5 linked regions of the Homo sapiens genome follow. The protein of the gene in region 2 purifies or fractionates together with the protein of the main gene of each other region. This does not show direct contact. Each region holds a gene or a part of one and is shown on either strand. Other genes may lie near its edges. The genes, in order: ASXL1, KMT2C, ASXL2, KANSL3 and BOD1L1.

The links.
Region 1: the proteins of KMT2C (region 2) and ASXL1 purify together in Homo sapiens (affinity purification with mass spectrometry, with the first as the bait; one large-scale study listed by BioGRID). This does not show direct contact.
Region 3: the proteins of KMT2C (region 2) and ASXL2 purify together in Homo sapiens (affinity purification with western blotting; one study listed by BioGRID). This does not show direct contact.
Region 4: the proteins of KMT2C (region 2) and KANSL3 purify together in Homo sapiens (affinity purification with mass spectrometry, with the first as the bait; one large-scale study listed by BioGRID). This does not show direct contact.
Region 5: the proteins of KMT2C (region 2) and BOD1L1 purify together in Homo sapiens (affinity purification with mass spectrometry, with the first as the bait; one large-scale study listed by BioGRID). This does not show direct contact.

Annotation. Positions count from the first base shown.
Region 1 is NC_000020.11:32,422,430-32,428,484, reverse strand, and holds part of ASXL1 (polycomb group protein ASXL1), read right to left. Parts: intron 358-6,055; coding exon 237-357; intron 161-236; coding exon 63-160; intron 1-62.
Region 2 is NC_000007.14:152,179,437-152,185,491, forward strand, and holds part of KMT2C (histone-lysine N-methyltransferase 2C), read right to left. Parts: intron 3,721-6,055; coding exon 3,538-3,720; intron 3,159-3,537; coding exon 1,275-3,158; intron 691-1,274; coding exon 398-690; intron 1-397. UniProt on the Homo sapiens protein: Histone methyltransferase that catalyzes methyl group transfer from S-adenosyl-L-methionine to the epsilon-amino group of 'Lys-4' of histone H3 (H3K4).
Region 3 is NC_000002.12:25,871,028-25,877,082, forward strand, and holds part of ASXL2 (putative Polycomb group protein ASXL2), read right to left. Parts: intron 1-6,055.
Region 4 is NC_000002.12:96,595,793-96,601,847, reverse strand, and holds part of KANSL3 (KAT8 regulatory NSL complex subunit 3), read left to right. Parts: intron 1-71; coding exon 72-205; intron 206-1,344; coding exon of another isoform or gene 1,345-1,374; exon of another isoform or gene 1,375-1,722; coding exon of another isoform or gene 1,723-1,782; exon of another isoform or gene 1,783-2,195; intron 2,196-3,687; exon of another isoform or gene 3,688-3,767; intron 3,768-6,055. UniProt on the Homo sapiens protein: Non-catalytic component of the NSL histone acetyltransferase complex, a multiprotein complex that mediates histone H4 acetylation at 'Lys-5'- and 'Lys-8' (H4K5ac and H4K8ac) at transcription start sites and promotes transcription initiation.
Region 5 is NC_000004.12:13,595,936-13,601,990, forward strand, and holds part of BOD1L1 (biorientation of chromosomes in cell division protein 1-like 1), read right to left. Parts: coding exon 3,011-6,055; intron 1,234-3,010; coding exon 1,169-1,233; intron 10-1,168; coding exon 1-9. UniProt on the Homo sapiens protein: Component of the fork protection machinery required to protect stalled/damaged replication forks from uncontrolled DNA2-dependent resection.

The sequences.
Region 1 (6,055 bases), on a different chromosome or scaffold from region 2:
GGGATCTTGCCTTATACCTGTCATCATTCATCCTCCCAGGCTAGGCTCTACCTCTTCCTTACCTGTGAGGAAGCTCTGTAGCTGTCCCTGGGATTGGAAAGAGGTCGACTCTGAGATTCTGTAGAACAGGATGCGTTCGAAGATGTTTCATCAAGAGATACTGGAAGAGAGGAAAATAAAGGTTAGTCCCTAGTGCCTGCTGTGGCTCCCTCACCCATCCATTAAAGGGTCCTTACCATCGTTTTCACCACTCACAGTGCTGGCTTCATTAGACCCACAGCTCTCCACATCAGCCGTGTCCTCTGGCTCCTCTCCCTCCACTGTAGCTGGATGGCGAGACCACTGCAGGGCATCCTTCTGTGACAGCAAGGTACAACTCAGGTGAACAAAACCCTACAAATTCTTAAAGCAAGGCAGTCATTCCTAAATGTGTATGCTTTTGAAAAAGAGGGATTTAGAATACTGACAAGTTCCTAACCCTTTCTAACTGACCTTTTTCTCAGCAAGTTCTTTTCATAAATATATCATTAAGAAAGTTAGATACACTTTTGCATTCAAACATTCATTAAACATTTATAGGGTGCCTCCTATAAGCTATACCATGTTAGTTCTGGGGAGGGTGGAGTGCTAAGGAGCAGGAATCAAGGCCCTGCTCTCAAGGAGCTCAAATAAGTAGGGGGGTCAATTAAACTGATTACAATACAAAGTACAGTACATAGGTGAACATGGAGAGCCGTGGCAGCCCAGAAGAGGGGCACCTAACTTCAATGAGTTGAGCGAAAGACGGCATGGAGGTGAATAACGATCAGGGAAGTAACACATCCAAAAGGATGTGTTGCTTAAGCTGGGTTTTAAAATAAATTAGCAACTAGACAGACAGGTTGGCAGTAGAGAGATTGTAGGAAGTTTCTAGATAGTGGGATGAGCAAATGTGAAAGAATATTCCAAACTCAGGGAAACTAGGGCTGTGGGGAACTCAATATGCAGGAAGCTAGAGAGGGCACGAGGGCAGATGGTAAGACCCATGTGGAGGGATCAAGAATTTGATTGTTCCGGAGTCACTGAAGAATATTAACTACAGGAATGATTTGAGTTTTCGGAATTTCATCTGGCAACCGCGGGAAGCCTAGAGGCAGGAAGAAGAGGTAGACACTATGAAAGATGTCCAACAAAAAATGCCAAAGATCTAAACCAAAGATTGTGGCTACAGGGCTAGAGTGTAGAGGAGAACTCCATCCCAAATTTCACCTCCTAAGAAAAGCTTCTTCCAATAGACTCACGACATGTAGACTCAGAATTAAACTCTACCCATTCCCAAGAAGAACTTGGGAGTTATCTCACACCTCAAAACTACAAAGAGTGTGGATGAGAATACTGGCAGTTGGAGACAAGAAGAAGATAAGTTGGGGCAGAGGAGGAGAATGTCTTCTTTGAATAAAAGTATGTGAAAAAGAGTTGATAAAGTCATGATTCTGCTAAAAAGGCACCATAAATTTAAAACAGGTGCCCACAACAATCTAACTCATCAATTTCATGAGTCTCTTGATCCACTACATTGAAGTTTCATCAATTTATTTTCATTAGTTTTAGCCAAAATCATGTATCTTAAATTAATAAAAAAGAGGCCAGGTGCAGTGGCTCACTCACACCTGTAATCCCAGCACTTTGGGAGGCTGAGGCAGGTGGATCACGAGGTCAGGAGATTGAGACCATCCTGGCCAACACGGTGAAACCCTGTTTCTACTAAAATACAAAAAATTAGCCAGGTGTGGTGGCACGCGCCTGTAGTACCAGCTACTCGGGAGGCTAAGGCAGGGGAATCACTTGAACCCAGGAGGTGGAGGATGCAGTGAGCTGAGATTACGCCACTGCACTCCAGCCTGGCGACAGAGCAAGACTCCATCTCAAAAAAAAAAAAAAAAAAAAAAAAGAAAGAAAAAAAAGAAAACAGTTTTCTACATCTTTACCTCTTTTCCTTACTGGCCATACATGGTCTTCAGAATCAAAAGCTAAATAATATTTTTAGTTATGCTTATTGACTGCCATGTTCTTGGTATAATAAAACAAATTTAATCTCTCTTCTCTCATGGGCAAACTAAGATAAAATACTCCTTAATGAATTAAGAAAGTCTATTACACTGGCAAAGTTACCCCAAATCTCCAGTTCTGACAAGAGTATGAGAAAATCATACATACACCCTTGATGAAAGTAAAAATGGCATAAAAAGGTTCACATGCTGCCAACGGAAAACTATTAGCCAAAACCTAAAAAATATATATGTATCTTTTATCCCAATACGAGATTTACACAGGACATGAAAAATATTGATTCTTACAAAGGAGAAAACAAATCAATTAAACTACATTAAAATTAAGACCTCCTATTCATCAAAAAACATTATTACCTACAGAGCTGAAAAAGATATCTGCAACTTACATAACCAATAAAGAACTTGTATTTAGACTACATTTATAAATCAGGCCGGGCATGGTGGCTTGCACCTGTAATCCCAGTACTTTGGGAGGCCAAGGCGGATGGATCACTTGAGGTCAGGGGTTCAAGACAAGCCTGGTCAACATGGTGAAACCCTGTCTCTACTAAAAATACAAAAATTAGCTGGGCGTGGTGGCGCACACCTGCAGTCCCAGCTACTTGGGAGGCTGAGGCAGGAGAATCACTTGAACGAAGGAGGCAGAGGTTAGTGAGCCAAGATTGTGCCACTGTACTCCAGCCTGGGTGACAGAGCCAGACTCCTTCTTGGGGGCGGGGAGAGAGGGGGAACAAATATAAATCAATGGGCAAAAGGCAACTCAGAAGAAAAATAAAAGATGTGAATTAGGCACTGCACAAGAGGATACTGAAGTAGCCAAAACATATAAAAGGGTATTTAATCTCACTAACAATAAGGAAAATGCAAAATAATGCAAATTAAAACCGCAATGAGATACTACCACATCCATCAGAATGGCTACAATTAAAGTTTGACAATATCAAGTAGTGTTAATTAGGAGTAGAACAAGTACACTGAAAACAGATCCAAGCATTTGAGAATACAATTTGGCCTTATCTGGTACAGTTGAAGATACAAACATCCTCTGACCCAGCAACGTCCCTCCTAGGCTTGGATTCCTTAGAGAAGTACATGCACATCTACACAAATCACAACCCACATGTTCATGATGCAGCATTTGAAATCTGGATTATAAACAATCAAAGTGGCTGCCAAAGGCAGAATCAAATTGTAGTACATTCAATAAATGGATGATTATACAGCAACAAAAAATGAATGAACTATAGCTACTAACGACATAGATGAATATTAAAAACAAAATAGTGAATGAAAGCCAGATACAAAATAATGCATAGTTGATGATTCCGTTTGTGAAAAGTTCAAAATAAGCTCAACTAAACTACAGCATTAGGAATGCAAAGACGGGTAGGTAATCTAAAGGAAAGCAAGAAAATAACTTTCATAAAGTCAAGACAGAAGTTACCTTCAGCTGGAAGAATGGGGCTGTGACTGGGAAGGGGCAGTGGGGGGTAGGGGAGGTGCGCCTGGCTGCTGGCCATATTTGATGTCGTGATCTAAGTGGCAGTTACAGGGTGTTCACTTTATAATAATTCCTTAAGCTGAACATTTGTGTCCTATGCATTCACTGTATTACATTCCCACAATTATAAAAGTTTAAAAACAAAAAATTTTAAGGTATTTCCTTCAAGGAACACTACCACAGATAGCCATTTAAAAGAAAGCTGTACAGCATTTAATGACAAGAGAAACGATGATACACAAGCTTAATTAGGCAATTAAATTCATACAGTATGATTCTATCATCTTTTTTAAAAAATGAAAATTTGAATGTGTTTGCATAGAAAAATGCAAGAGAAATTCTTACTAAGCTGTTGGCCACCACCATCTCTAGGTGGCAGTTTTTTTGTTTGTTTTTTGAGACAAGAGTCTCGCTCTGTCACCCAGGATGGAGTGCAGCGGCATGATCTCGGCTCACTGCAACCTCCTCCTCCTGGGTTCAAGCGATTTTCCTGCCTCAGCCTCCCGAGCAGCTGGGATTACAGGTGGCTGCCACCACGCCCAGCTAATTTTTGTAGTTTTAGTAGATATGGGGTTTCACCATGTTGGCCAGGATGGTCTTGAAATCCTGACCTCAGGTGATCCACCCACCTCAGCCTCCCAAAGTACTGGGATTACAGGTGTGAGCCACCGTACCTAGCCTAGGTGGTAGAGTTTTAGTAAGTGCTTTATATTCTTTTCAATTGTGGGTATTTTCTACTATTAACATGTATTGTTTTCTGTGATCAAGAAAATAACAATGAAAAAGAAAAATTAGGTGTTAAATGCTTTACCAAGAGCTAAATCAAAATTTCCTTCCTCTAGGTCCTAGAGTCTGGGGAAACCAAGTACTGTTTACAAATCTCATTAGTTAAACAAACAGGAATAGGGCCTGGTTGTCTGCAATTCAAACTACCCAGAAGTTTCTAAAGCCATGCATTTTCAGTAAAAAGACAAGGAAAACAAAACTTTTAAGAGTAAGATTTGCTATTCTAATACTGCATAATTTTTATTGTACAGACAGGGTCTTGGTCTGTTGCCCAGGCTGGTCTCAAAGTCCTGGGCTTGGCCAGGTGCAGTGGCTCAAGCCTGTAATTCCAGCATTTTGGGAGGCCAAGCCAGGCAGATCACTTGAGGTCCAGAGTTCGAGACCAGCCTGACCAACATAATGAAACCCTGACTCTACTTAAATACAAAAATTAGTTGGGTGTGGTGTACATGCCTGTATTCCCAGCTACTCGGGAGGTTGTGGCAGGAGGATCGCTTGAACCCGGGACATGCAGGCTGCAGTGAGCCAAGATCATGCCATTGCACTCCAGCCTGGGCAACAGGGTGAAACTCCATCTCAAATACATAAATAAATAAATAAATAAAAAATGCTGGGTATTGTGGCCCACACCTGTAATCCAGCACTTTGGGAGGCCGAGATGGGGGGACCACCTGAAGCTGGGAGTTCGAGACCAGCCTGGGCCAACATGATGAAACCCCCCCTACTAAATATACACACACACACAAAAAATTAGCTAGGCATGGTGGCACACACCTGTAATCCCAGCTACTTGGGAAGCTGAGGCACAAGAATCGCTTGAACCTGGGAGGTGGAGGTTGCAGTGAGCTGAGATCATGCCATTGCACTTCAGCCAGGGCGACAGAGTGAGACTGTCTCAAAAAATAAAAAATTAAAAAAAAAAATCAAACTCCTGGACTCAAGCGATCCTCCCACCTCAGCCTCCCTAAGTGCTAGGTTACAGGCCAATTCTACAATTAGCCACATCCAGCCAATTCTGCATTTGTAAAAGATCATTAATCTTTCCATATAAACTCTATAAGTTTGACATAATTGACTTTTCATACATTAACCCTATATGTCTGACAAAAACGAAATGGGTTACTGAAAATAACAGGTGCCAGAAAACATGCCCTAGGATTCAAGATTTTAACATTTTACAAGAATAATTTTCATCATGAAGCTTTTAAAAAAATTAATAATGGGTGATCTTTCACTAAATCCTACATATAAAAAATTCTATAGGCCGGGCACGGTGGCTCATGCCTGCAATCCCAGCACTTTGGGAGGCCAAGGCGGGTGGATCACAAGGTCAGGAGTTCGAGACCAGCCTGGCCAACATGGTGAAACCCCGTCTCTACTAAAAATACAAAAATTAGCCGGGCATGGTGGTGCACGCTTGTAATCCCAGCTACTCGGGAGGCTGAGGCACAAGAATCACTTGAACCTGGAAGGCAAAGGTTGCAGTGAGCCAAGATCATGCCATTGCACTCCAGCCTGGGAGACAGTGCAAGACTCTGTCTTTAAAAAAAAAAAAAAAAAAAAAAATTAACCAATCCTTCACCACACAGTTACCATGAGAGGGAGAGTGTGAGATGGGGAGTGTGAAGACAATTAAGATCTACTCTCAGCAAATTTCAAGACACTGGGATATTTGAATGTGAACTGCATACTAGATGGTAATGCTGCATTAATGTTA
Region 2 (6,055 bases):
GGTAATGCTAACACAGTTAATACTTAAAAACAAAGGTAATGTTTTCAGAGTCTGTAGAGTTCTTAGAGGAAAAAAATGTCTATGACCTCTCATTAGCACTAAATAGCAGATTATATATATTTCAAAGGGGAGAAAGAAGTAGAAAGCAGTAACAGCTTCCTGATTAATACTAACTTCATTTGTCTATTTCTTTTAAAAAATTTTTAAATTTGTTGAAGAGGTTGGGGGGGGGGGGGGGTGGTCTCACTATATTGCCCAGGCTGGTCTCAAACTCCTAGCCTCAAGCAATCCTCCTGCCTCAGCTAGTAGCTAGGATTACAGGCACAAGCCACCACACCCAGCTCTGTTTCCCTCTTCTAATAGCAATTTAAATTCGGCAGGAAATTAAAAGCATTACCTAAATCCATGAGGTCTCATCCCCATACTAGCAACATCAGGAGGATAGGGTCCACGCTGATCTTTTGGGAAAACAGCATATCTAGGTCCTAAAGGAGGGGCAACAGGAGACCTAATGTTCCCAGGATAGGGAGGTGGGGGTCTGGTGAAAGCCTGGTTAACATTCTCTGGTTGCCAGTGTTGAAGAGGCCCTGGATGAGGCACTGCGGGTGAGTCCTGTGACCCCTTCTCCTGTCGACCTGCAATCTTCTTCTGCTGTTGCTGCTGGAGAATGATTTCACGTAACTTCTGCCGCTAAATGGGAAGAAACAAAAATCACTGGGATTTGTGGTAATTAATGGCTTTTTAAAGGTTACTGGCTTTTTATTTTTAGATATGGGATCTTGCTATGTTGCCCAGGCTGGCCTCAAATTCCTGGACTCAAGTGATCCTCCTGTCTCAGCCTCTCAAGTAGCTGGGATTACAAGCATGCGCCACCGTGCCTGACAGGTTAGTGGCTTTTTAAATCCTGATACTTTCATTATGTGGCTATGGTAATGTTTCAAAGTTTGATGAAATACCAGTTACATTTAACTATTCAATATATTAGGAAAAATAATTTGATGATTTGGGTCCTTTTCCTTGCCAGACAACTATCACAAAACAAAGCTTTAATATTTAAGGATTCCCCTGCGAATTCGTGAAAACTGAAATCAGATACAGAATAAATTAAACTGGTGTTAATTTCATCAATTTCATTTTTCTTTTTTGCAGTATGACAAACTCTACAGAATAAAAAAAATAAAACATTAACTCCTGTGTAGAAATTACTCAGTTTGATGAAATGAACAGCTTCCTCAAATAATACATTTAAAACTGAGAACATACAATGTGTTTACCTGTCTCAATTTCTCTGTATCTGCTTGGGCCATATTTACAGTATTCTGTGTATCAGTTACTCCTGAAGTTGGCACAGGTCCAGGAAGTTGGGAGACACCAGAGAACTGCTGGCCTTGGGAGTGCATTGGAGAGTTTGAAGATGCACAGAAGCTCCCCTCTGATCCAGGCCTTGGCTGATCAGCAACATCATGGGCAGTTTGACTTGTTCCAAAAGAGTCAGACTGAGATCTTGGAGTCATTGGAGACTGATCATAGGGATCACGGGCAGCAGATGGGGAAACACGGCTAAATGTGTCTGAAAGACCAGGTCCAGGGGGCCTAGGTGTCTGGGAACATGTATCAGGTGGCCTTACCAACGGGCCAGGTAAAGCTGGTCCTCGGTTTTGTGCTGCTTGCAGGAAAGGATCCTGATTTGGCATGAGGACTGGTCTTGTCATTGAGGACCTAGTAAAACCCTCTGAAATCCTTGGCCTTGGTGTTGCTGGTGGCTGAGAGTAAGGGACAGAAATTCCAGGTCTTGGTGTTCCAGGAGGATGAGCATATGGATCAGAATGCCTCTGATTTGTTACAGGTGTAACAAACAAGTCAGTTTGTGTAGATGGTCTTGGGGTTTGGGGCTGCTGACTATATGGGTCAACAGTAGTAGGCCGGGGAGTTCCAGGAGGTTGAGAGTAAGGGTCTGTATTGGACCTAGCTGTTCCTGAAGATTGGGAATAAGAATCTACAACAGGTCGTGGAGTTCCTGGGGGTTGGGAGTATGGGTCCTGAGATGTTGGCCTTGATATGGTTCCAGGCTGGGAAAAAGCCCTTGAAGGATGGGCAAAAGATTCATTCACTGCTGGATGTGGGGTAAGGGGAGGCTGACTATATGGATCATTTGACTGATTATGAGAAAAATTATCTATAGGTCTTGGTGTCAAAGCAGGCCTTTCATAAGGGTCAACAGACAATCGCCTTGATGCCTGTGACACTGATCCATAAGGATCCTGAGAGGATGGAGGAGGTTGCATTGGAGTCTTAAAAGGTCCAGGACCACTATCAAGAGGTGCAGGTGTCAACAAGGGTCGTGCATATGAGTCAGGTATCCTTTGTCTTTGAAACACATCTGCCCTAGGAGATGGTTTAGTAAAGTGATCACTGGTTCCAGCTGCTATAGGGCCTTTTGCAGTTTGTTCTGAAACTACAGGAGACCGGGATAGGCCCAAGGATTTGGGAAATTGATCTGTCATCACAGGCCTAGGTGTGTCTGGAGGTTTTGCATAGGGGTCATTATTTGTCGTGGAAGAAGAACATAAATCTCTGACAGGGGATGGCCTATTTGCTGTTGTCTCATTCATTTGAAGGGGCCTAGATACCGATGATAAAGGTGTACAGTTTTCCACTGGTGCAGCAGAATTTCTTCTGGAAAAACTATGGCCCACAGGAGGTGGTCGAGGGGTACCAACCATTTTTGCATATGGATCCATTGGAGATGGTGGTCGTGAGTTAGAGGACCCAGGTGAAAACACTTGCGGTGAGGGTGGCTGAGAAGTCTGAGCCTGAGAAAGACTATCCTGGATGGGAATCCGGGATGGGGCTGGAGGAGGAGGTGGAGCTTGTGGCTTTACAAACACATCATCTGAAGATGTAGACGTAGGGGTACTGGGTGGCTGTTTTGTAAACAGTTCTTTATGGAATGACTGTGCAGGAGACATATTTCCATTGCCAGGCTGAGGTGTCAAGGGACTCTGTATCCCACTACTTGGTGTATCTGAACCAGACTGCACCAGAAGATGCTGAGAACCAAATTGCTGTTGTTGCTGCTGCTGCTGCTCATTTTTCACCTGTTCAAGTTTCTGTGTGGCTTCAATTTTAGCTTGCTGCTTACTTTTCTGACGCATTTGCTATTAAAATAGAAAAGAAAAAGCAATCATATTTAGGTTAAGGAAGAAAACTACCATCATGGGGGGAAAAAGCAACAGAAAGTTAATTTGTTTGATGTCAGCGCTACCAGATTGCTCCCATATTAGATTATGAATTCCTGAAGAAGAGAAATTACTCATCATGGTATGTTCCATTTGTGCCTAGGGCAGTATATTGTTTATAATATTTCAATAAATTTCTCAAATCAATTTAAATATATTTTACTGAAAAGAGAAACAAGTCTATCCTAAATCAAATTTTCATGGTCTAAGAACTATATTCTAAAATAATAATGCAAAGACCTCCCTTCTCAAAACAAAAATGCAACTTCAAAAAGTAGATTATCCAAAAATTCCATACCTGTCTAAATTTCCATTCCTGTTCATGTTCTGATTCTCTTTGCTTTAAAGGATCTTTAAAAAGCTCCGAATCAATACGAGAGCTGGGATCAATGCTATCTTGCTGTTGCTGCCTTTTCATGGAATCATTTGACATCTGTACTTTATTAATGCGTAAAGCAGCTCTGTTATCTCTGGCTTTTTGCTTTGACAAAAGAAGAGAAAAAAATTTCCCAGATTATGTTAAATGTTTTAAGGAATAAAATAAAACTATCATGAACTTTCTCAAATAAAAGAAAAAAAAGTCAGGTAAAATAGCTGAAATACTTACGGCACCTCCCAAAAAAGGATCTGGACACTAACTCATCTTCTCTCTTTACAGTGCATAGTACCTATCAGTTGAGGATATATTTCTATGTATTTGAATTAAGCTTAAAGATCCTAGGTGTGATTTAATATTTTAGCTCCTAGTTTTCTTAACATATCCTTAGAAATTATGTCTCCTTCAATTTAGAAAGAAGGGGCTGGGGCCAGGCATGGTGGCTCATGCTCGTAATCCCAGCACTTCGGGAGGCCAAGGCGGGTGGATCACCTGACGTCAGGTGTTTGAGATCAGCCTGACCAACATGGTGAAACCCCACCTCTACTAAAAATACAAAATTAGGCCAGGCGCAGTGGCTCACACCTGTAATCCCAGTACTTTGGGAGGCTGAGGCGGGTGGATCACCTGAGGTCGGGAGTTCGACACCAGCCTGACCAACATGGAGACACCCCATCTCTACTAAAAATACAAAATTAGCCAGATGTGGTGGCACATGCCTGTAATCCCAGCTACTCGGGAGGCTGAGGCAGGAGAATCACTTGAACTCAGGAGGCGGAGGTTGTGGTGAGCCAAGATTGCGCCATTGCACTCCAGCCTGGGCAACAAGAGCAAAACTCTGTCTCAAAAAAAAGAAAAAGAAAAAGAAAAATCAGCCAGGCATGGTGGCACATGCCTGTAATCCCAGCTACTTGGGAGGCTGGGGCAGGAGAATCGCTTGAATCTGGAAGGCAGAGGTTGCAGTGAGCCGAGATCGCACCATTGCACTCCAGCCTGGGCAACAACTGTGAAGCTCCATCTCAAAAAAAAAAAAAAAAAAATTTAGAAAAAAGGAAAAATATCCAATCAGTCTTAAAAAAAAAAAAATCTGGATATTTGAAACGTATCATTAAAGAAATCACTTAAAAATTTAAAAATTCTGTCATTACCTAATTCAAGTCAAAATAAAACACAGCATATTAACACATCTATATATATATATGTGATAGAGCATATACACACATATATGCTCTATCCAAAATAATCACTGTAACTGAAAATATGTGCACTGGGGAACAAGCTGGAAAATAACTATATATATTTTCCAACAATAATACAGATTTAATATGCTTTAAAACGAAAGCAAGGATTTGGTTCCAGCTGACAATCTTAATTTGGCTCTTTGGGAGAAAATAATTTACCATATGAACTGCGAATCTTATAAAATTACCTAATAGTTCATGGCAAAGATCATGTGTCAAAAACTCTTTAAACATGTCTAAATATTTCTCTTTCAAGATGCACAAAGATTCTCTATGAAACCTAACAAGAAAAGAGGTGACTGTGGAAGACACTGAGGCATGCCAATCCAGTCTCCAAATTTAGTACAGTTGTCCCTCTGTATCCATGGGGTATTGGTTCCAGGATTCCCTGCAGATACCAAAATCCACAGATGCTCAAGTCCCTTATAGAAAATGTCACAGTATTTGCATATAACCTACACATATCCTCCTGTATACTTTCTCCCTTTTTATTTTTTGACCTAGCAGGGTGGTCTTGCTCTGTCACCTAGGCTGGAATGCAGTCGTACAATTCTGGCTCACTGAAGCCTCAACCTCTCAAGTCTCTCAAGTAGCTGAGACTACAGGCATGCGCCATCATACCCAGCTAATTTTTTCATTTTTTATAGAGATGAGGTTTTGGCTATGTTGCCCAGGCTGGTCTTGAACTCCTGGGCTCAAAGCCATCTGCCCACCTTGGCCTCTCAAACTGCTGGGATTACAGGTGTGGGTCACTGTGCCTGGCCCCTCCTGTATACTTTAAGTCATCTTTAGATTACTTGTAATACTTAACACAATATAAATGCTATGTAAATCGTTGTTACATTGTTTTAAAAACAATGACAAGGGAAAGAGTCTGTACAAGTTCAGTATAGATGTTTTTCCAAAATATTTTTGATCCATGGTTGGTTGAATCCACAGATATAGAACTCATGGATACAGACGGCCAACTGTACCTCTGCTGAAGAGATAAAACAATTTTAAAGTGAAATGAATTACTCCTTCCCCCCTAAAACAGCTGATTTTCAATCTTCAACGTTTTGGTTCTATTAACTTGCTTATAAAAATGTCACACTCTCTATTAAGACATAAGGAGTTAGAAAATCACTTTAAAAATAAAGTTGCTTGTTGTACAGGTACTAACAAGCATTTTCTGAAATGGAAATTTGTTTTTTATTAAC
Region 3 (6,055 bases), on a different chromosome or scaffold from region 2:
GCAAGTAACAGTTTTTAAATCATATTTAGAGTTCTAAAATTTAGCTCATTCAATAACCTTTTAACAATAGTAAAAACATAACAAATCACACTGTACTAAAAATACTAAATTTAAAAATATCAACTATGAGGATGGCCTCTATGAGATGTAAAAAGAAAGAATACAGAAATAGAGGGGTATTCAGAGTTCTTTTGTAAACAGGACAAAGATAGCAAGTTTAGTTATATCTTCCACACTGGCCTCCTTCCAGACAGCTTTCGTAGAGGGGGGGAAAAATGTCCCACAGCAAAATTGTCCAGCCTCTCAAGAGTAGATAGAATCTGTGGATGGGGAAGCAGAAAGGACTTTTGCAAACCTGAGGTTATTTTCTCAACGCCTTTCAGAATTCTACAAGAGATGCAGGAGTAGCAGCAGCAGCAGCACCTTTCATAGAAATTTTTAATTTAAGTGTTCAAAAAAAAATCTGCTTTTTTCCCCTCCTTCAACAAACTAGGAGGCTTGTGGGCTTTCAGGATAGAGGAATAAAAACAGGTCAGAAAAAATTATGAAATTAACACAAAATTTTATTTATTTTGGTTTTTGAGACAGAGTTTCACTCTTGTTGCCCAGGCTGGAGTGCAATGGCACGATCTCGGCTCACCGCAACCTCCGCCTCCCGGGTTCAAGTGATTCTCCTGCCTCAGCCTCCTGAGTAGCTGAGATTACAGGCATGCGCCACCCACACCTGGCTAATTTGAAATTAACACAAAATTTATGCAGGAGAACTTTAAATAATATGGCAAGAAGGAAAGATCAGTCAAGCAAAAAGTGTTACATCAAGTCACCTTGTACTAACAGACTTGCAGAAAGTAATTTGACGAATGTAAATACACAGTTGTTTTGAAAATTATGCATCAGAGCAGTTCCTCAATTTTTTTAAAAATTAAAGAACTTTTTATTAAACTCTTGGGTGAAAAGGAGAAATAAATTATAGAATTTCAGAAAAACAATGAGTGAAAATTTTGCATAACAGATCTATGGGATAAATGTAAAGCAGAGATCAGAGGAAAATTCACAAGCCCAAAGAGCTACATAAATTAAAAATTAGCAGGGCACAGTGGCTCACGCCTGTAATCCCAACACTTTGGGTCCATTGCGAGAGCCCAAGAATTTGAGACCAGGCTGGGCAGCATGGCAAAACCCCATCTCTACAAAAAATACAAAAATTAGCCAGGCGTGGTAGTGCGTGCTTGTGGTCCCAGCTACTTGGGAGGCTGAGGCAAGAGGATCCCTTGAGCCTGGGAGGCAGAAGCTGCAGTGAGCTAAGATCGCACCACCGCACTCCAGTCTGGGCAACACAGCAAGACCCTGTCTCAAGGAGAAAAAAAAAATTAAAACTTAAATAAATTCCCAACTCAAATAGCTAGAAAGATAACAAAAGAAACCAAAACAAAGTCTAAGAGTAAAATTGTAAAGGTATAAGTGAAAACTAATAAGGTCAGAGAACAGAAAAACAATTCATAAACAAAATCTGTTTACTTAGGGGAAAACAAAAGCACCCAACAAAACAGATAAATCACTAGCAAAATTAATAAAGAAGATAGTAATACAAATATACAAAGTAAGCATTGATAAGGGAGAAATAACTATAGAGAGGAAAAATTTTAAATTCTATGAGATTATTTTCCATAGCTTTAGGCAAATAAATTTGAGAATCTCTATTATATGGATAACTGTTAATGAAAACAGTTTACTAAAATTGACCCTAGTAGAGAGAGGACGCTTAAGCAAACTAAGTTCCACAGAATAAATAGACAAAACTATCAAGGAATTAGCTCACCAAAAAGCACTTAGCCCAGACGGTTTCTCAGGAGAATTTTTTTTTTCCCAGAAGTCTCTATTTATTGGCTCTTGGGAGGTTGTAAGTTCTTTTTTTGTTTTTTTCCCCAATAGTTTTTGGGGAAAAGGTGGTGTTTGGTTACATGGATAAGTTCTTTAGTGGTGATTTCTGAGATTTTGGTGCACCCATCACCCGAGCGGTGTACACTGTACCCAATGTGTAGTCTTTTATCTCTCATCACCCTCCCACCCTTTCCCCACCCAGAGTCCCCAAAGTCCATTCCATTGTTCTTATTCCTTTGCATCCTCATAGCTTAGCTGTCAGTGTTTCTCAAGTTTTAGCCCATGCCAATGCTTTCTCACTAATTTTTATGTAATCCATGAGCCAAAAATCTACCGTTTTACTTTCTATAATTTGTATTATAAAAATTGGCCAGGTGCAGTAATCTCAACTACTATGAAGGCTGAGGCGGAAGAATCACTTGAACCCAGGAGGCAGAGGTTGCAGTGAGCCGAGATTGCACCACTGCTCTCCAGACTGACGACAGAGTGAGACTCTGTCTCAAAAAATAATAATATTTCCATTTTCTACACTTCCTATATCAAAGTAATTAGCCTATCTTTAATAGAAATTTTCTATCTTCCACCTTATTTTCTAAAGTTAAATAAAGATGATTAATATGTGATGACATCCTGAGGATTTTAGCAGTGACAAAAGTGACAAAAGTTTTAAGTGACAAAAACTAAAATCTTGTGTACATTCAAAATAATTAACCAATGAATAAAGTCTATATATTAAAAAAAAAAACAAAAAAACTACTTCTTCAGTCTACAAATTATATTCCAAAGATCTACACTACAGGTTATGTTCCTCATCTCTAACACCCACACCTTGTTTCTCATATTTTTTTTTTTACCATTTTCCTCCCAAAAAAACACCCAATGTCCCTTAAGTGTATAATCTCTAAAGTCTGCCTCTCTATCCCTTCCACCTACAATCACACACACTTGTCCTTTTGGGACTCTTTCACCTTTTAATGCTTTTCTAGCCATGGGTAAGGAAAGAAAAGTCAAAAGGCAAACAAGATCAATAAGACTGCTATTTTCAAAGTTCTGCTTTGCAAAAACTGCTAAAATCCTCAGGATGTCATCAAATATTTAGATGATTCATCTTTTTAATGAGCCTAATTTTGAACATAGTTCTAAAGTCAATGCAGGCAGGGTGCAGTGGCCCACATCCGTAATCCTAACACTTTGAGAGGCTGAGGCAGGCAGATCACTTGAGTCCAGGAGTTCAAGACCAGCCTGGGAAACTTGGCGAGACCCCGTCTCTATAAAAAAAAGTTTAAAGATTAGCTGTGGGCCCCGCACAGTGGCTCATGCCTGTAATCCCATCACACTGGGAGGCAGAGGTGGGCAGATCGCTTGAGTCCAGGTGTTTCAGACCAGCCTGGGCAACATGGCGAAACCCCATCTCTACAAAAAATTAAAAAATCAGCCAGGTATGGCAGCGCATGCCTGTAGTCCCAGCTACTTGGGAAGCTGAGCTGGGAGGATTGCTTGAGCCTGGCAGGCAGAAGTTGCAGTGAGCCAAGATCACGCCACTGCATTCCAGCCTGGGCAACCAAGTGAGACCCCGTCTCACACACAAAAAAATTAGCTGGGCATGGTGGCACATGTGTGTGGTACTAGCTACTCCACAGGCTAAGGAGGGAGGAGCCCTTGAGCCCAGGAGATGGAAGTTGCAGTGAGCCACGATCACAAGACTGCACTTTAGCCTTGGTGACAAAGTGAGACCCTGGTTCAAAAAATAAAGTCAATGTAATGGCTCTCAATATCCCCGGTTAGCTACAAGTTTTCAAATTTAAATTGTACTAAACACTACACTATTTGTCTCTCGCTCAAATCATTCATTACCACCATCACTACTGCCCTTAAAATTTAAAACATGCAGCTGAGTATAGTGGACCACGCCTATAATATCAGCACTTTGGCAGGCTGAGGCAGGAGGATCACTTGAGCCCAGGAGTTTGAGACCAGCCTGAGCAACATAGGGAGACCCTCTCTCTACAAAAAAAAATTTTTTAATTAGCTGGGAATGGTGGCGCACACCTGCACTCCCAGCTACTCAGGAGGCTGAGGCAGGAGGATCACTTGAGGGGTTGGCTGAGTTGCCATGAGCCGCCATCGTGGCAGTGCACTCCAGCTTGGGCGACAGAGCAAGATCCTGTCTCAAAAAAAGAAAAAGTAAAACATGTGAAACTGTTAACTAAATACTAGAATGCTTTTTATAACTAGCATATTTAAATAAGATCAACAGGGAGGCAGTCCAGTGTAGTGAATGCACATTCAAGATCAGGTGAATCGCAGCTCCATCACCTTTCTCTGGTGTCCTTAGTTACTGGAGCCAGTGTATATATTTAAGTTCATTTTATCAGCCTTTTGGCATAATCTACTATTATATAATAATTATGAAGCCAAGCACAGTGGCACATGCCTATAGTCCCAGCTACTTGGGAAGCTAGGACAGGATGATCACTTGAGACCAGAAGTTCAAGGCTTTAGTGCACCACGATCATACCTGTGAAGCCACTGCACTCCAGCCTGGAGAGCATAGCAAAACGATTCTAAATAAATAAATACAATTATAATAATAATGATAATAATTATGAATCTTATTATTTTGCTTATAATAACCTTACATCAAACCATGTAGCTCTCCCACATAAACACACACACCCCGTATCATCCCAGTATCACATATCTACATTTAATGTGTTGAATATATCTATTGGTATATTATTGGTCAGGAAAACAACCTTATTTTAATAGTACTCTCTAAAACATGATAGCTCTACAATGGAGGTATCAAAAACACATGAAATAAGAAACAGACACCTGCTTCCTTGATGAAACTGTTCCTCGAACACTTGACATCCTAATGCCTAAGAAATAAGTTTAAGCCTTAAAACTTCTTTTCCTATTCCTCTGGATCTAAATACTAACATTCTTATTTAGGTCAAAGTTACTTTCATTTGTCAACTCACTAATTTTCTGATTTCATTATTCTACAGTCTGAAATATTACAAATGTACCTTTGCCCGGTCCTTCTTTTATTTTCATCTATTTATCCCAAAAACAGAAATATTTTGAACACCGAGATTTAGTTTAATCCCCTCACTTATAGGTAATAAAATAACCCCCCAAAATTAAGAGTGTTTTCTAGATTTTGGCTACTAGAAAAACTTTAGTGTCATCATTCTCTTTCTAAAACACATTTTCACTGAGACTGGGGCTTCATGTATTTGCCAGAATCAAAGAAAAATACCAAGCTACTAATATACTGGTACCCTCAGGAACTCTACTGATCAAAGTAGTCTTTCCATCTTTTAAATACTATTTTTCACATAGCTAGCTAGGGCATGAAATGAGCAAATATACTAACATAGGAAAAGCTAAGTAGATGCAGACTAATTTTTCCTATTTGTCGCAATCTCCCAATGACTATTTTATCAAAGGGATCATAATTCAAAAAACACTCCTAAGATTCTAGAAACTTGTGTAATATTAGTGCTTTGAGAGGCCAACGGCAGGAGGACTGCTTCAGCCCAGGAGTTCAAGACTAGCCTAGCCTGGGCAACATAGAAAGACCCTGTCTCTACAAAATATTTTTAATTAAAAAAACAATTTTAAAGACCCTAGGAACTTAAAATTAATTAGCATAAATTAGGGTCCAGGTCTGCTTACCTATAATTAAAATTTATCATGCTTCTTTTATTAACAGAAAGAGGTCTTGAGGTATACTGAGAGTAAAACAGCCCTCTGTGGGGATGCAACCTCTACACCTTCAAAAAAAAGTATAGGAGTCTTATCTTTTAGAGGGAAACTACTAGCACAGGAAGATATACAAAGACATATTGTAAGTGAAAACACCCAGTAAGTAAAATGTGCTATTATTTCTTAACTTTTTTACATTTCCAACTAAGAGAGATACAAATTGAAAACTCATCAACCTCCTAATGCATAAAGTTTACAAAACAAATGCACAAAGTTTAGAAACAAATGCACAAGACTGAATAAACAGTATGACCTAGATTTGGGGAAATAAAGAGACTAGACGGTAATATACCAAATGTTAGCAGATACAGCCGAGCGGTGAAATAAATGTGATTTTTTTTAAATGTTCTTCTTTATACTTTTTTATAATTTTCCAAATTTCCCCACAGTGAACATTACT
Region 4 (6,055 bases), on a different chromosome or scaffold from region 2:
CAGGAAAGGAAAGCCTCAGTAGAAGGTGGAGAGTGTGACTCAAAAATTCTGCTTCTCTCTCTTTATCTCAGGCTTGAAGGTCCCCACCACCATTACTCTGACACTTCGTGGCCAGCCGAGCAGGATCACTACACTGAGCCCTATGGGCTCAGGAGCAGCCCCATCCGAGGAGTCCTCTTCCCAGGTGCTGCCCTCCAGCTCACAGGTGAGTCTGCCAGGAAGGACTGAGGACATGGGCTTCATTATTGGGAAGTTTAAGACCAGCTGACTGGCTGATTGAAGGGGCTGCCCATGCACTGGACAGACGAGATTCAGATTCAAATTCAAATCTGTATTCTGGAGTTTGTGGCTTTATAATATTGAGCGAATCATGGACATCTTTGAGCTTCCTCTTCTACATCCCTCCCTTGATATTGTGAAGAGTACATATGTTCAAGTGGGTAGCAGTGTCTAGTATTTAATGTTTTTGTTTACTTTTCCTTTCGTTTCATTTTTTTCTCATCCTTGGTTTCATCCTTCAGAGGTTATGAGTAGAGGCTACTTGGCTAATGCTCTTTCTTTGTTTTTATTTTTATTTTTTGAGATGGAGTCTTGCTCTATCGCCCAAGCTGGAGTGCAGGGGTGTGATCTCGGCTCCCTGCAACCTCCACCTCCCCGGTTCAAGCAATTCTCCTGCCTCAGCCTCCCAAGTAACTGGGATTACAGGCGCCCGCCACCATGCCCGGCTACAACAGGGTTTCACTGTGTTGACCAGGCTGGCCTCGTACTCCTGACCTCAAGTGATCTACTTGTCTCGGCCTCTGAAAGTGCTGGGATTACAGGTGTGAGCCACCGCTCCTGGCCCTTTCTTTGTTTTTAAGGACATGGAGACAGAGATATCTCACTATGTTGCCCAAGCTGGCCTTGAACTCCAAGGTTTAAGTGGTCCTCCCGCCTCGGCCCCCAAGTATAATACTCTTTCTTTGACATTGGCTTTCTAGCACTGTGCCTTCCCATATCTTAGCATTTATTGCTGTCTTTTTAGGGCACAGCTAGGTTTTTATAGGTCTCACCCAGGAAGTCATGATTAGTTTCTCTTAGCTGATCTAATTTCCCCTGTGACCTTTTCAAGTCAAATATTTCTAATCTTAAAATGGTAATCTGAGGAGCCACTCAAAGATTAGAAGTTAAGCCAAAAAACAGTTTGAGTCTAGTACTGAGTGTGCTTTCCTTCAGTATCCGCTATACAGCCAAGGCCTTCCTGTGTCTCCCTGTCCTTTCCACCATGTCAACCTGCTTGTGAACTGGAGGTGCAGTGATAGTTCCTGAGCCATTCTAAAAGCTCTTCTGTCTCTTCCTCTTTAGGGAAAATACTGCACAGAGGTCAACACCTGACATTCGTTGGGATCATAGCTACCTTTTTTTGCAGAGGGATGGAAATGTTTTAATTTTATCTTATTTCTTATTTTTTCAATTATAAAAATGATTATGCTTATTTTAAATAATTCAAACATTATAGAAATAATTAATTTAGAAAGGGAAAGTTTCCCATGATGCTACTCCTAGAGATGATGTTCACTGTTAATAGCCTGATATGGATCCATTCAAATTTTTTTTTCTACACAAAGTATGTTATTTTATTTATTTTGTACAAATATGGGATTACAGAGTATGGACTGTTTTGTAACTTGCCTTTTTTTATAAATCATGTCGTGACACGTTTCCCTGTCTGTGTCTTTTCAGAGGCTGGCTAGTATTTCACTGAGTAGATGTATGAAGATGTATTTCACCACCTTCTGTTAGGTAGATAGCTGGGTTCTATTTTGGTTTTTGATATTTTAAATAATGCTCTGGTGAACACTTGTTTATTCTTGTGTACCTCTGGGAGCATTTCTCCAGGCCAGAGAATAAGTAGAGGATGTGTACCTCTAATATCTGGGCAGCTGCTCACTAACTGCCCTTCAAAAAGTTTTTGCTACTTTACAATTCTAGCCACGGTGATGAAAATATGTTTCATATTTTGTGGAAATCAAAATTTTAACTTTATTAATCTGGGTGAAAAATGAAATTGTTTTAATGTGCATTTTCCTGATTACTTAAGAAGTTTTATGTCTTTTATGAAATGTTTGTCATACTCTTTGAATTATAGTGGCTTTGTATATTCAGATGTTAAATCTTTATCTGTTACACAAATTACATATATGTTATTCCTGTCAGTGGCTCATATTTTTTTTTCTTTCTATTGAAGCATTCATTGAATGTCAGTCAGTCTTTTAACTTTTATTTCTAGATCATACAGCCATTTAAATGTTTCATATAGTAAAATCTTCAAATATTTTCCTTTATAGCTCCAAAGTTTTATGCCTTAAGAAAGCTAGCCCTATCACAAGAATATAAAAGTAATCCTTTTTGTTTTTAAAATTTGAATTGTGGTAAAACATATATAACATACAATGTACCATTTTAGCCATGTTTCAAGCTTACAGTTCAGTAGCATTGAGCACATTCACATTGTGGTACAGCCATCACCACCATCCATCTCCAGAACTTTTCTGTCATCCCATATTGAAACTCTCTCTTTGTGTTTTCTTATAATGCTTTTGCTTGTTTCCTTTAATTCCTTATAGTTCACTTTTGTATGTTAAGTGAGGTAAGGATGAGTCCATTCATCATTCCTCCACTCATCTAAAATCCACTGCTGTCACATTCTAAAGTACTGAACACATATGGGCCTGTTCTGTAGTTTTGAATTTGTCTATCCTACGCTGGCCTTCTGTTATGGGTTGATAGTATGGATCTTGAAGTTAAGGGAGTGTCAATTCTGTTTCTAGTTTGCTAAGATAATCTTCATTCTTTTCCTTTCTCATGATAGTTTTGAATTTTTTCCATTATTCTTTTAGAATCACATGAAATGAATGAGGATAAACATTTCCTTTTTTTTTTTTTTTTTTTTTTTTTTTGAGACAGTCTCACTCTTGTCACCCAGGCTGGAGTGCAGTGGCACGATCTCAGCTCACTGCAACCTCTGCCTGCCAAGTTCAAGCTATTCTCTTGCCTCAGCCTCCTGAGTAGCTGGGACTATAGGCTCATGCCACCACCCTCAGCTAATTTTTCTATTTTTAGTAGAGACAGGGTTTCACCATGTTGTCCAGGCTTGTCTTGAACTCCTGACCTCAAGTGATCCACCCACCTTGGCCTCCCAAAGTGTTGGGATTACAGGCGTGAGCCATCATGTCCGGCCAACGTTTCCTTCTAATCAGTTAAAATGATGAGTTACTTTAATAGGTTTCCTAATATCAAACTGTGTGAATTCTAGATGCAGTGGCTTTTTCAGTGTGTCCTATTCTTTTTATTATACATACAAAGGCAACAAGACCCTATCAAAAGAACGAAATGAAAAAAGAAAGAAGCTAAGCATTTCAAAAGAAAAGCATGTCTATTCTATTTGCTTTTATTTTACTTAGGATTTTGGCGTCTATATTAATCTCCTCAGGCTTTGGCCCATAGTTTTCTTCCCCTCCACCCCCTACTTCTGTGTGTGTGCTTTCCTTTGTCTAGTTATGTAAAAGGGGTAATTCAATCCTTGTAGAATGAGATGGGAAGTGCTTTTCCCCTCTCATACTCTAAAACAGTTTTATAGTACAGAAATGATAGTTCCTTGATGGGTTGATAGAAGTGACCTACAAAGCCATTTGGGCCTGTTTTTAGGGTGTCTTCGTTTGCTGATGCCATGTTGATGGACAACTAGAACACAGATCCTGCCACGTGATCCCTTCCTCCTGTGTTAGGTAATCCGTCTCAGCTTGCCATGGCCTGGGCCAGCCAGTTACCATTGAGAAGAGAGTAGAGGTCATTGAGAATCCCCCTTTTCTGGAGCTCAGTTGAAGCACAGAATAAAGATCAAGGTCTGGCCTTCTAACTGATGATGTTAACATGAGATTAGTTTTCATCTTAATAGAATGGACGTAGGCTGGGCATGGTGGTTCACGCCTGTAATCCCAGCACTTTGAGAGACCTAGGCGGGTGGATCACGAGGTCAAGAGATCGAAACCATCTTGACCAAAATGGTGAAACCCCATCTCTACTAAAAATACAAAAATTAGCTGGATGTGGTGGCGTGCACCTGTAATCCCAGCTACTTGGGAGGCTGAGGCAGGAGTATTGCTTGAACCTGGGAGGCGGAGGTTGCAGTGAGCTGAGATTGTACCATTGCACTCCAGCCTGGGCAACAGAGCCAGACTCTGTCTCAAAAAAATAAAATAAATAAATAAAATAAAGTGGATATGTAATTGCTAGGAGGAGTCAGGTGGTGATTCTTTTCCAACAAGCAAGGGGATGTTATTAGATTAAGGCTTCTTGCTGATTCAGAAGCTTCTAATAGCTCTGTTCAGATTGCCAGACAGAGCACTGGACTATGGGTCAGGTCATCTGTTTTCAGCCAGCTGTGTGATCCTGGGCAAATCACCTATCCTTCTGGGCTTTGGTTTTCTTACCTGGTTTAGAGAGGAAGTTGACTTAATTCAGTGACTGTTGTGGTGGCAGGATCAGAATCTCCTCAGGCTTTGGAAACCGACGTTTTTTAATGCTTAGAAACAAACTACCCATTTTTTTGACATTTATGAGGCAATTGGAAATTTTAACACTGACTGGATAGTTGTTGATATTACGGAATTGTTAACCTTTTTAATGTGTGATAATGGTATTGTTAGGATTTTAAAACAGTCATTTTTTATTTTGGGGTTCCATACTGCAATATTTTTGGATGGAATGAATTTAAAAAGAAAAGTGAACACCAACTAGACTTCTCTAAGATCTGTATAAGCACTTAATTATCTGTTTTGTTTCTGGCACTGATTGGTGTTTACTATGTGTTTCCTTCATGGGAATGGACTATTGTGTACTCATCACAGCTGAGAAGCTGCAGGGAGGAAGAGGACAGACAGAGACTATGTTGTGCCCTGCATCAGGGTCCAAAAAATGGACTCCCTGCCTGTGGTTATAAGTTCTCTCTCCTCTCTGTCCTGCTGGCCATACCAGGACCTTGTCAGCCTGGCAAGCAGCACCTCTAGCTGGAGGCCTCTGGCAGTGGGCCTCACTGTAGCCTTGTAGCAGGCTGTGGGCAAGCTGGCTCACTCTAAGGTGTATTCATAATCAGAACAGAGTGATCATCTGTGTACAGCCCTGCCTTTGGGCAGGGAAGCCCATGAGGTTTTGTTTTTGTTTTTGATTGAGATGGGGTCTTGCTATATTGCCCAGGTTGGTCTGGAACTCTGGGCTCCAGCAGTCTTCCCACCTCAGCCTCCCAAAGTGCTGGGATTGAAGTCATGAGGTTTGATTGTCAAACTCCTCTTCATTGGTGTGATTATGGCTCACTGCAGCCTCAACCTCTTGGGCTCAAACAATCCTGTGGCCTCGGCCTCCCGAGTAGCTGGGCCTATAAGGCATGCAGCACTATGCTCACCTAATGTTTGAAAAAATTTTGTAGAGATGGGCTAAGTTGCCCAGGCTGGTCTTAAACTTCTGGGCTCAAGCAGTCCTCCTGCCTGGCCTCCCAAAGTGTTGGGATTATAGGCATGAGCCACCTCGCCTGGCCTTCCCTCCTTTACTACATTCTCAGAGACCTCTTAGGAGTTTCCCAAGGGGGAAATTTAGAAAAGTGGGGAAAGCGTTGGTAAAAAAGGCCACCCTCTCTACTTGCTTCCTTATTCTTAAGCTGCAGGGCTCAACATTGATGGCATCCCCCCACACCTACATGTCTAAGGCCTCAAAATCAGAAGTCACGGAAATCTTCCCTTCTGTTCTGTTGCCCTTAAAAACTCACCTATTTCCTTTTTTCTGCATTCCTTTTCTGTCTTCATGTGTAATAATATGAGGTGACCTTTGTTGTTGAGCACAGATTAAACTCAGGAGCTTTATGTGGATTATTTCATTTAATCCTTACGGTGACCCTGGAAAGTAGATGCTGTCATCTACCTCTTACAGGCGAGGAAAAGGAGGCTCAGAGAACATAGGCACTTGCCTTAAAAAGTGGAAAGTTGAGTCTCTCACTCTAGAGTCCATGTTCTGTTAACCACTT
Region 5 (6,055 bases), on a different chromosome or scaffold from region 2:
CACATAAGCCTAAAAAATCCAAAGCACCATAAAAATAAGTTAACCAGGGTTTTTACAAGAAGACTAACCTCAAGTGAATTAAACAAAAAAAAACCCAGCATCCTGAAACAATATAAAAGCCTATTTTCAAGAGTACACAAAACTTAAAAATAAATACATCAACCTTTAAAAACAAAGCCAAGTAAAAAATCAATTTAATCTCGTATTTCATCCATCAATGGGTATTCTATTGCTTTAAAGGTAAAAACCCCAACTCAGCACACCACACAAGACTCTTCCTGATGGGCTCCCACTCCCTTCCAGGCTCAAGTCTCATCACAGCTCACCGTGAACCACTGCAGCGCCTGAGACACACCACGTGCCCTCCTGTCTCTGAGTCTAGAACACAACATTCTCTTTGCTTGGAAGGCTCTTTTCTTTCTTTTCTGGGAAATTTCCACTCTACTTTCAAAATTCTATTCCAGTGTCCTCCTTGCAAGCCCTCCTGTCTACCTGCCTATTGCTACTATTGGGCAAGTTGTGTTTCCTCTGTAGTGTTCATAACCCCCATGTTCACTGCTGTTTTGTCACATATACTTGGATGGTGCCTTCAGATCAGGCTAGAAAGAGGATATGGAGACTAAATTGTGTAAAGCACCAAAGCCATGCTTAAAAAAAAAAAAGCAGATTTTATTCTAAGCATGATGGGAAGCCACCACAAATTTTAAGCAGAGCAATGACAGGGCCTAAGTTATGTTTCTAATGACTACCTGCAGGACTGTGTGAATCACACTGGAGGAGGGCTGGAGTGAACTAAGCCTAATGGAGAGGCTACTGAAGTAGTGGCTTAGCCTAGGGTGATGACTGTAGAAACAGAAATAGATGGACTCATGTTATATTTTGGAAATGGAACCTGTAAGAAATGGCGATAGATTAAATGTGGGATGACGGAGAAACTGAGGGTGACTCTTGTGTTTCTGGCTTGAGTAAATGAACTGATGATAGCACTATTTACTAAGATTACTGAGGTTCTTAGCTTTCCCCCCACAGGATATGGCAATAACAACACTAAATATCATAAGTACAATGAGAACAGGACCTATATACCACATAAGTATATATATGTGTATATGTGATGAAACAGTATTTAATCACTTACAGTTCAGCACAGCTGAATTATAAGCCATACCTCCATTTTCAAGTTGGCTTTCAGTTTCAATCCTCCCAAAACATTCAATGGAGACTCTTCATTGCCTAATAAAATTCAAGCCATTTAGTACAGTTTAAGAATTTGCTTGCAAAATACATCTGGGGTCAAAAAGTAATGGAATGTGGTTATCTGACATGCTGTTGCACCTTCCTTTTCTGGTTTATTTTGCTGTCAGTAGAAAATGATCAAAAGGAATATGTTGTATAAAAGAATCTGGATGAAAGGCAGGGATTATTTGCTCATTTTGGGTGAGTGAAATTCTTATTTGCACAGTAAGATAACTGCCCAGAAAGAATGACAAAAGTATTATCTGTGGAGACATCTTCATTTCCAAGTATTTTTCTGCAGTGATCTCCATCAAGTTTGTCCTTAAAAATATTCTGAGTCACTAAGGTCTATTCTCAGTAAAGGTGATTTATTAACAGATTCACTTTACTTGCTTCACACTGAACACAGAAAAATTGAACACAAAGTTAAACTGTGAGGTAGACAAAAAGAAAAAATTTTCTCAGGTGCAGAGATTCAGTTCTACTCTGGTCTTGCCTCTTATATCCTTCTTTAGATTGTGTAGAAGCTTCTGTGGAAACCCTTCTATTTTCACTTCTTCAGGAAAAAAGGAGGAATGAGTAATTGTAGCAATGATTGAGTCATAAAAACTTCTGGAGCATTCAATTTACTCCAGGCTAAATTCAACAGAAACTTGTAAAGTTACTTGTTTCAACCCTTGGAGCATTTCTTAAAGTCTCCTAAGTCTCTATAATGAACAAGACTAAATCTATTAGCCTCAGCTTCCTGAGACTGGGTTAGATGATGGCTAAGGTCTATTTCAGTTAAAAGTCCAGGATGCTACAATTTATATAGCCAGAGTGGAAAAGAATTCCTCTGTCCCTTCAAGTCCAGCCCATGAGGACCCTTTTGTTCCTACAGCATCCTGTGCTTAATCCCAGTCTATGCAATTGTCATGCTTTAAAGTGTCACTGTCCACTTTTCTCCAATCTGGACTGGTATAAAGTATCTGAAGTTGGACGGTATAAGGCATGACTGAGATAATATCTTTGAAAGTTATTAACTATTTCTAAAAGACCAGCACTGTCCAAAATCTGTCAGCAGGGAAAAATGTTTCTTTTCACTTTCAAATATATTCTAAACTAGAAACTCATTTCACCTGAAAAATAAGCTCAGTTAAAAATAACATGCTCCTTTGATTCAAAGGAACTAACAGACTGAACAAACAAATACTGCAAACCTATGATCAGATGAGGGTTGGAATCGTGTTTGCCTTTGTATTATCATCCCGTCTTATTATCCCCATTTTATACAACAAGAAATGGAGGCTCAGAAACTGATTTTTCCTCTAAAAGTCACCCGAGGACCATGAATGCTATTTAAATTTTCTGACCCTATTTCCTCGTTTGTAAAATGAGGGTGGTAAAAAAAAAATGTATTGCTTTCATTGGGTTGTGGTAGGGTATTCTTCTTTTTGATTGACAAAAAACCTGTAGGTCAAAAAGGTTTAGTAAGTTGCAGCAGTCATGTAAATAACATGTGGACTTCCCATGCCTCAGCCTCCTGCTTTTTCTCTCCCCACACATGAGAAATGGGCCAAAGGCTTTAAACTTTTAAACACAAGTAGCTTTTAGAGAAGTTTGACCTTCAAGTTTGATGAGAGTTATTTTGCAACATTATGATATGAGAAAAAAATTTATAGATATTTTATCTTTCTGGAACCAAAACCATCTTTTGGAAGACTGTCCTAAATGCACTCTGTTGTACAATCATCCTTGTAAATATTAAAATTTGCAATTAGGTACAGATTCTCACCTATGTCACACACATTTTCTTCAGAAGACACAGTAACCATTATGTCTCCTTCCTCAGGGAATGATTTCCTTGTGCTGTTATCATCTCCTGTTTTCTCAGCAGATGCTTGATCAGTCCATTTGCCACTATAATCATTCTTTATAGTCAAGTCCTGCTCACATTTAGGAGCCAACAGAGCTACACTGTAAGTAGCTGGAGGGATCATTGTGTGGGAAGGAGCAATTTTTGATTCTTGGCCAGTAATACATTTGGTGGTACTGGTTTTCAAGTTGTCTTCAGACCCCTGCTGCTCAGCAGGAAGAAAGGAATGCTCAGCCACGGTCCCTTGAACAGGTGGCATGTCATCAGCTTTTATAGCACCGGTGTTTACTGCTGCCAAATAGCGAATGCTGACAGAGGGATCCTTAGCCGTCTGCCCAGACGTCTGTTCTGGTCCTCTCAGGTGGGCAGGTGAGTTAGCATTCCCCTCTAAGCCCCTTCCTGCTGAATAACTTGCTGTGCTACTGCCCCCTGCTGTCCCTGTCTCTGGGCTCTTATCTTCTTTCTGAAGGGAGTTCAACAATACATTCTTCTCTTCTGCATTTATGAGGTGTAAAGTGCTCTCTTTCTGTCCTCTTCCTGCAAATGGTCCTATTTCGGGGCACTCCTTGCCATGCTTCTCTTCTTTTTCCGCACAAACAGCACTTGGATGGCCTTGCCCTGCAGAGGGCTTGTGGACTGATGGCCCGTTGTGCCCCTCCTCGGTGCTCACTGCCAACACGGGACCCGGTTCTTTGCCTCCCCTGACTGGCCCAGGACACCGACAGTTATTCTCAGCAATTAGGCTGGGCATGGGGACCTTGTGCTTGCTCACTTCTGTGGCTGACAGGTCACCGTTCCCTTCTGGGTTGTCTGCAGTCAGCTGATTCTCTTCATGTCTGTCAATGCTGGCGGAAATTGGCATACATTCTGCTGTGCTGGTGGAGATGATGGCAGCATCGCTCAAGTCTTCTACTCTTGTGATGGTGAGCCGATCTTCATCCTGGAGGACAGCACCAATCATGACTGCTTCACACCCTTCAGAGGTGCTTGTGGAAATCATGGCGGTGTCACCCATCTCTTCCGCTGGTGTGACTGAGGGGTCGCCTTCCTCTTGAGGGACAGCACTGGACACTGGGCCCTCACAGTCTTCCACCGAGCTCGTAGAGATGATGCCACTCCCGTCTTTTTCTTCCATGACTGTGCCAGCTCGCTCATTTTCACTTTCAACAACTACACCGGAAACAGAAGCCTCACATTCTTCTGCTATGCTAGTGGAAATGAGAGCACATTCATCCTTCTCCTCCTTGCTGGTTGAGGCAAGAGGACTTTCAGCTTCTGGGGGCGCACTGGGCATAGGCCCCTCAAAGTCGGCGGTGCTTATCAAGACTGGACCTGTAGCCCTTTCTTCCACTGCTGCAGCAACCGGCTGAAGACTTTCAGCACACTTGATGGTTGTTGCACTGGAGATAGGCAATTCGAATTCTTCCCCTATGCTTGTGGAAATCATGGCACACTCATCTTTCTCTTCACTTCTGCTGGCAGTGAGTTGGCTGTCATCTCCTGAGACTGCACTGGGCATGGGGGCCTCAAATTCTTCTGTGGTTACTCTGGTACCTTCCATATTTTCTTCAGTTCTCAGAGCATCTGAGAGACCTCCTTCCACATCTGTAATTGCGCTTACCTGAGGGGTGTAATCATTTGTGGTACTGGTGGAAATAATCAAAACTTTGCCTTGATTTTTACCCCCTGCTAAGCTATTCTGGTTGGTAATATCACCACTGGCTGTAGTTGCCATGAGACCATCACACTCTTCATTTTCTACAGAGGTGATGATGTCCTCATCTTCTTTTTCACTTGGTGATGTGTGAGCAACTTCACATTCTGGGACTTCACCAGATACAAGAACATCGTAACTACCCCCGACCAGGCCAGTGGAAATAGTGGTATCTTCAACTTTTTCGAGCTGACTGTCACTTTGATCAGATGCAGCACTAGTCATAGGACCCTCACAACCTCCTGGAACTGGTGTCACTTCATCCTTTCCTGAGACTGCACTGGTCACACTGCTTTCTACAATCCCTTTTGCACTGGAGCAGATATCTGTGTCTTTACTTCCTTTCTCTGTGCCACTCATGCTGTCAACATTATTTTCATTTGCATTCATGATGGCAGCTCCAGCCTCAGCTTCCACATGCTCTACCACAGTACCAATCTGACTGTCCCCTTCTGCACTTTCACAAATCAAGACCCCTTCACTTTCTTCTCCTAACCCTGTACAAGTTGAAGCATGCCCAATTTCATTTCCTCTTCCAGTACTAGTCACAACATCCTCCCCTTCCTCGTCTTCCTCTTTTGCGCCTGTGCTAGTCACAATGCCTTCATCATCACAAGGACCAGCAGCAACTAATGGTACATTAGTGCCTTCTTTGGCCACTGTGCTGTCCATTGCACTCTCTCCATTTTCTTCCGATTCAGAACTTATAGCAAAGCCTTCGCTGCTATCTTCTGAACCTGTGCAACTTGCTGGCCCCTCTCCATCTTCTGTTATCCCCGTGCTGGTGACTGCACTCTCACCTTCTGTACCATCATTCACAGAACCATCTCCTTCTTGGCTGGCACTTGTTCCTGGTGGTGCATCATTATCTCCCAGGACAACACCTGCACCTGTAACCATGCGTTCCTCCCGGGGCCCTGCTCCAGTTACTGAGCAGATCACAAAGTTATCACTTCTGCCTTCTGCTCCTGTACATGTCACAGTGCCCTCTGTTTCTTTTTTGGGACCCATTCTCATCATATTTCCCTGGGAGCCATCCACCTCTTCACTGCTTATAGATCCTGCTCTTATCTCTGTTCCAGCACTTGTAACTGCTCCATCACTTTCAACTTCACTAATAAAAGTAATAGTTCCTTCAACTATTTCTGAGTCTCTACTTAAAGAACCATCACATTTTTCTTCAGAGCCTGCACTGGTTACAGCATCATCCTTTTCCTCTGTCACAACGCTATTTACATTGGCTTCGATTT